2 linked regions of the Homo sapiens genome follow. The protein of the gene in region 2 purifies or fractionates together with the protein of the main gene of each other region. This does not show direct contact. Each region holds a gene or a part of one and is shown on either strand. Other genes may lie near its edges.

Region 1 (3,500 bases), on a different chromosome or scaffold from region 2:
CCAATGGAAGAAGCATAGTCTTCAACAAATCGTACTGGAGCAATTTCATATCCATAGTTAAAAGATGAATTTTGACCTAAACATACAAAATTAACTCAAAATGGATTATAGGTGTAAATATAAAATATAAAATGAGCCAGGCGTGGTGGCTCATGCCTGTAATCCCAGCACTTTGGGAGGCCGAGGTGGGTGGATCACTTGAGGTCAGGAGTTCGAGACCAGCCTGGCCAACATGGTGAAACCCCGTCTCTACTAAGAATACAAAAATTAGCCGGGCACAGTGGCTCCCAGCTACTCAGGAGGCTGAGGTGGGAGAATCGCTTGACCCTAGGAGGCTGAGGTTGCAGTGAGCTGAAATTGCGCTACTGCACCCCAGCCTGGGCGACAGAGCAAGGCTCCATCTCAAAAAAACAAAAAAAAACACAAAAAACCATAAAACGATAGAACTTTAGGGTTTGGTGGAGAGTGCTTAGGCCACGTCAAAAGCAAGACCTGTAAAAGGTGGGGTATGGTGGTGCAGATCACTGAGGAAGCAGTGAGCTTTTATCATACCACTACAGAGTCCTGGCTGCTTGGGAGGCTAAGGTGGGAGGATTGCTTGAGACTAGGAGTTTGAAGCTATAGTAGGCTGTGGTCATACTGTGAATAGCCACTGCATTCCAGCCTGGGCAATGTAGTGAGACATCATCTCTAAAAAATTAAAATAATTTTTTGTAAAAGCATGAGCCATAAAAGGAAAAAATTGATACACTGAACTTCATCAAAATTAAAAACTTGCTGTGTGAAAGACCCTCTTAAACGGATGAAGAAAAGCCACAGACTGGAGAAAATACTTGTAAAGCATCTGATGGAGGACTCATATCTAGAGTATATAATGAACTCTAAAAACTCAACAGTAAAACAAAAAAAAATTCAATTAGAAAATAGACAAAAGATAGGAAGAGATATTTTACTAAAAAGGATGACGAAAAGCACATGAAAAGATGTTTCACATCAAACTAAGACCACCATGAGCGATACTGTTACACAACTATTAGACTAAAAAAAAAAAGCCAGTCTCAAAAGGTCATATACTGCATGATTCTGTTTATATAATACTCTTGAAATTACAGAATTATAGAGATGGCTGGGTGTGGTGGTTCAGGCCTGTAATTCCAGCACTTTGGGAGGCTGAGGCGGGAAGATCACTTGAGCCTGGTTGTTTGAGAACAGCCTAGGCAACAAATGAGACCCTATTTCTGTAAAAACTAGAAAAATTACCCGGGCATGGTGGCACATGCCTGTAGTCCCAGCTATGTGGGAGGCTGAGGCAGGAAGATCAGTTAAGCCCAGGATGTGGAGGCTGCAGAGAGATCTTTATTGTGGTCGAATAGTTATGTGTGTTGCCTGGGGTGGTGGTTACACAAATCTATGTGTGTTTAAATGACAGAATTATAAACACACATTGTACCAATGTTCTGTTCATGGTTTTGGTACTGTACTATAGTAAGATGTAACTGGGAAAGGTGCATGGTACCTACCTATACTATCTGTGCAACTTACTGCGAATCTATATTATTTCAAAATAAAGAGCTTAAAAATGCAAATACAGGCCCCTGTAGGGAAAAAGGAAGAGTTGGTGGGGGTGGGTTGGTTAGTGGGGGGCACTCAGTTTGTCTATCCCCATTATGTGGGTCTGGGAAACTTTGGGTATTTTCTAGAAATCCAGATTAGATTTCTTAGTCTGGCTCTTGGTTCCCTGATTGCCATTCCTCCACTGTTTGCTTTGTTTCTTTTTTGACCTCTTTCTAGCTGTAGCTTCGTTCTCCTGCTTGCCTAGCATTCAAAGGGAATAGAGGTCTGAATGACTGAGGGCTAGAATTGAAATTATTGTTCATAGCTTTATTTGTAGGCAAGAATTAAAAATCTAGAGGAAGCATGTATTGTCCCTTTTTTCTATGTATTGTCCCTTTTTTCTCTGTATTGCTTTTAAAAAATTTATAGTGGACTATTTATCTTAACTTTAGAGAAGTTGCATAATTTATAAATTATTAAACAATTGCTCCATTCATTAGAAAAATTAAAACAAGTTTTTGCACACATGTGCTATTAAAACATTAAGTGCTATATTGACTCACCCACAATCAGTTTTGAATGGAGTTTCCTTTTTAGCCTCCAGGGATGGGAAGACTGGTAATAGGATTTGGTAGGGTAACTTGAAAACTGAGTTAAATGAGAAAGGTAGAAAAAATTCGTACTTTTTCTCCTCCCCACAAAAAATAAAAACAGTAAAATCTTTACCAACTGAAAAAGCTGTTGAAATTTTCTGTATGTTAAAAAAATGAGCTTTGCAGTAACTCTTAAAATCACCTAGCAAAATAGGAACTATAATGTGCATCTTTCCTTCACTAAAACATTTATTGCATCTCTTCTTGATGCTGATGATTGAGGACACACATTCTGCTTTCCTGGGGCTTATGGTTTTATATAAAAACCAAAGCAAAGTAGAAAGTATACCTCCTACCAAGGGCATAAATATAATGATATAGGGGTTCAGGAATGAGAAAAAGTAAGTAGTTAGGGGAGGAATGGCAGAAAAGTTTTGTCAGAAAGGAGAGTTGTGTTCATTTAGTCAGATTCCTTGAATTCCACTGATGTGAACATTGATTACTTATTTCTTGTTGTAAATATATGCAGAGTGTGTTCCTTATGGCATTGTCAAATTCATTTTAGAAATTAAAACTTAGCTGCTTAAGTTCCTTTACTTGTATTCAGACATTTCAACAAGATTCAAGATTTTAACGACACTTTCTATCGACGTAAGTTTTTTACTTGAAATTAATGCTCACTAGATTCTTAGAATTTTTTAGTTGGTAGCTATTCAAATATTGCTAGCTATTTCAAGGCTATTTCTTCACTTGCTTTCCTCTCTCACTGTTGGCTTTTCAGTAATGTTGCTGATAGACTGAAAAGAGAATGCTAGTTTTAGCTGACATGACCAGCTACAAGTTTCTATGCTTACCTGAATGAGAGTTCACTCAAGGAATTGGAGCTCTGAGAACGTATGTGGGATTACAGTAAAAAGTGCTTGTGGTTTTTTTGTTGGTTTCTTAGAACGTGCAAATTGTTTTCTGCAAGTGCTTTTTTTTTTTAATTAGTAAACTTTATTTTTTAGGGCAGTTTTATGTTCACAACAAAATTGAACAGAAAATTTTTGAAAACTTGGGTTCTCATAGAGCTTCCTGTTCCCACAAACACACTACCTTCCTAATCAACATCTTGCACCAGAGTGGTACATTTGTTGCAGTTGATGAATCTACATTGAAAGATCATCATGCAACTACATATTTAAAAACTAAAGTTGCTTTTTTTTTTTTTTGTAGAATTTCATATTATTGTATGTGGACTGGACTCTATCATCGCCAGAAGATGGATAAATGGCATGCTGGTAAAGACTTTAGTATTGTTATAGTTCTCTGAAGTTCTTGCTGCTGTGCTTCACATCCCCAAAATTAGAATTG
Region 2 (3,500 bases):
CTGGACTCAAGCAATTAGCCTGCCTTGGCCTCCCAAAGGGCTGGGATTACAGGTGTGAGCCTTTGTGCCCAGCCAGGCTGCAACAATTTGAACAGGACAAAGCCCCAGCTGTCTCTACTGAGATACGCAGACCCCAAACAGGGAATTTCCAGGGGTACAGGAATTAGGAAAAGTTGAGTCCATGGCATACAGCTAGGCATACATCCAGGTGAGCTCACCATGTCTAGGGATCAGGAAAGGCTCTCGTGGGGTGTGATGTGTAAGCTGAGATCCAGAAGAAAGGGTAGAAACAAGCCACATAAAAAACGGGAGGGGAGAGGCACCCAGACAGGGGCTAACTTGTTAAATATGGCTCTGGGGGGACAGAGTAGTAGGTTCAAGAAAATTAAAATGGCTGGATGTGGTAGCTCATGCCTGTAATCCCAGCACTTTGGGAGGATTGCTTGGGCCCAGGTGTCGAGACGATAGTGAGAGACCCTGTCTCTACTACTACTACTAATAATTTTAAAAGCCTGGGCAATGTGGTGAAGCTGTTTTTAGAAAAATTAGCCAGGCATGGTGGCATGCACCTGTAGTCCCAGCTACTTGGGAGGCTGAGGTAGGAGCATTGCTTGAGCCCAGGAGGTCGAGGCTACAAGTGAGCTGTGATTGTGCAAGTGTACTCTAGCCTGGGTGAAAAAGTGAGACCCTGTCTCAAAAATAAAATAAAATAAAATAAATTAGCTGGTCATGGTGGTGCAGGCATGTATAGTCCCAGCTACTCAGGAGGCTGAGGTGGGAAGATCACTCAAGCCCAGGAAGTCGGGGCTGCAGTGAGTTATAATCATGCCACTGTACTCCAACCTGGGTGACAGAGTGAGACCCTGTCTCAAAAAAAAAAAAAAAAAAAAAGAGAAGAAAAAAGAAAAATTATTAGTAGGGCCTCTGAGTGTAAGAGACCAGGGGACAAGAGCTCAGGAGAAAACTGGAGGGGTGGGGAAAAAAGACAAAAAAGACAAAAAAAAAAAAAAAAAACCTGGAGAAGGGGGCAGGAGCAAACCCCAGGAAACCTTCACAATAACTCATGGACCTGGAAAAAGCAAGCCTCAAGGACTCCAAGTGGGGGCGTGGCATGATCAGAACTGCTTTAAACAATCGCTCCAGGAGAAAATCAAAGAAGGGGCAAGAGGGGACTAGATTTACACATGATTTACACACATATATGATTTATACACATATGCCACATATGCATAGACCGCCTCTCAAAGGTGCCTGCAAACTCAGTAAAGTGGCCGAGCAGGGTAGCTCACACCCGTAATCTCAGCACTTAGGGAGGCAGAGGCAGGAGGATCAATTGAGCCCAGGAGTTTGAGACCAGCCTGGGCAACACAGTGAGACCCCATTCCCCACAAAAAAGGAAAAGCAATCGGTAAAGTGAACACCTCAAAGGACGGGCCTAGAAGGCTGAGGGATGAGGAGCTGGGTGGGAGGGAAACTCGCTTTCATGGCATGCCCTTGTAGACTCTTCAGATTGTTTACCATGTGCAGGTATTTCCAGCTAGAAAGAGTTTAATTAAATGATCACTCCGGCTAACATATAGCAAGTGGACTACAGGAACAGGCAAGAGTATGTATAAGTTTCAGAAAACTATATGGAAAAGGCTTCATGACATGTCTCTAAGGGAAAGAAAACTAAAGTGCCACTGTACATTTTAATTTACACGCTCAGAAAAAAGGCTGGAGAATTACCCATTAGTCCTAAAGTGATGACAGGTGAGCAAGGGAATTACAAATGATTTTAACTGTCTTCTCTCTGATTTCCTGTTTTCCCCATGTTTTCTACATGAACATGTTATAACTTTAAAAATAAGGAAACGACATTTTTGGAAGGGGGAACGGGCCCACCTTATGCAGACTGGTCATGCCGTCGTCATCCACCACCCTGGGGTTGGACCCATGTGATAGCAGGAGCCGCGCGATTTCAGTGTGCCCGCAGTAGCTGGCTCGGTGCAGAGCAGTGGCACCCCCGTGGGTCTGGGCATCACACTTAGCTCCGCTTTCCAGCAGGAACTGGCACACAGCGTAGTGCCCATTGCGGCTGGCATAGTGCTGCAGGGAACAGAGACCGAGGTCAGATGGGAGAAGCCAGGCAGGTGACAAGGGTGGTATAGAGGTGAGAGCATGGCCTCCCTGCAGCGAGGGGCCTGGAATCATCTCAGGTGCCAACCCCAGCAGTCGTGTGACCTGGGCAAGCTTCTGCGTGACTAACCTGAGTTTGTTCAATTGAAAAATGGGGAAAATGATCATTCCTATCTCAAAGAATTGTTACGAAAATAAAACTAAATCATTGGCTGGGCGCAGTGGCTCATGCCTGTAATCCCAGCACTTTGGGAGGCCGAGGCAGGCGGATCACCTGAAGTCAGGAGTTCGAGACCAGCCTGGTCAACATGGTGAAAACCCATCTCTACTAAAAATACAAAAATTAGCTGGGTGTGGTGGCACATGCCTGTAGTCTCAGCTACTCAGGAGGCTGAGGCAGGAGAATCGCTTGAACCTGGGAGGCGGAGGTTGCAGTGAGCTGAGATCGCATCACTGCACTCCAGCCTGGGTAACAGAGCAAGACTTCATCTCAAAACAAAACAAAACCTAAATTATTGATGTAAAGGTCTCACACTAATTTAAAAAATCCAGGTTCATATGATGCTTAAAAAGAGAAATTTTGCTGGAAGAGAAGAAAGGGAGGGAGGAGGTAAAAGGTAACCATCAGTCCCCCTCCTCAGAGAGCAGGTGTCTCCTGAGTTAACGCTTCTGTCTCCTGACCCTGTGCTCCTCCCTAGCTCACCAGCGCAGTGTAGCCGGCCGAGTCGGGCTGACTTGGGTCCTCGGCCTTCTGGATTAAATGCTTCACTCGGCCCAGGTCTCCATTCAGGGCTGCCGACCAGATTCCTGCAGAAAGGCAACCAAAGGACTGAATGATGCTGAATGGGAGTTTCAGTGCTTGCTTTGCCTCTTGACCTCAGTTTTCTTGTCTATAAAGTGAAGAATATTCATTCCTTCAACAAATATCAACCGAGCACCTCCTCTGTGTCAAGGTTTGTTCTGAATGCTGGTGACTTAGCTGTGAACAAGACAGATGGGCACATCTCATCAGGACAGTAGGACTGGGCGGACACAGACATCTCCATCCCACTTCAAACACAGAAGTGCTGGATGAAGTAATGTTTAAAATGTTTGGATCTAGAGTGAAATTCAGGTCGGGCTGGGATTACAGGCGCCCACCACCATGCCCAGCAAATTTTTCTATTTTTAGTAGAGACAGGGTTTCACCATGTTGGTCAGGCTGGCCTTGAACTCCTGACCTCAAGTGATCCATTTGCCTTGGCCTCCCAAAGTGCTGGGATTACAGGCGTGAGCCACCGTGCCCAGCCAGAAACAACTTTTAAAAAATATAATGATGCCTCCAGAAGGCTGCCAAGGCAGTGTGACAATCTCCCACAGAAGAGGATCTCCCTGGTGAGCAC

Evidence for each region. Proteins that work in one complex are often made in the same cells at the same time.
Region 1: the proteins of ANKRD39 (region 2) and UBA3 purify together in Homo sapiens (affinity purification with mass spectrometry; one large-scale study listed by BioGRID and IntAct). This does not show direct contact.

What each region holds. Positions count from the first base shown.
Region 1 is NC_000003.12:69,063,366-69,066,865, reverse strand, and holds part of UBA3 (NEDD8-activating enzyme E1 catalytic subunit), read left to right. Parts: intron 1-2,754; coding exon 2,755-2,798; intron 2,799-3,362; coding exon 3,363-3,427; intron 3,428-3,500. UniProt on the Homo sapiens protein: Catalytic subunit of the dimeric UBA3-NAE1 E1 enzyme. E1 activates NEDD8 by first adenylating its C-terminal glycine residue with ATP, thereafter linking this residue to the side chain of the catalytic cysteine, yielding a NEDD8-UBA3 thioester and free AMP.
Region 2 is NC_000002.12:96,851,517-96,855,016, forward strand, and holds part of ANKRD39 (ankyrin repeat domain-containing protein 39), read right to left. Parts: intron 2,926-3,500; coding exon 2,822-2,925; intron 2,089-2,821; coding exon 1,885-2,088; intron 1-1,884.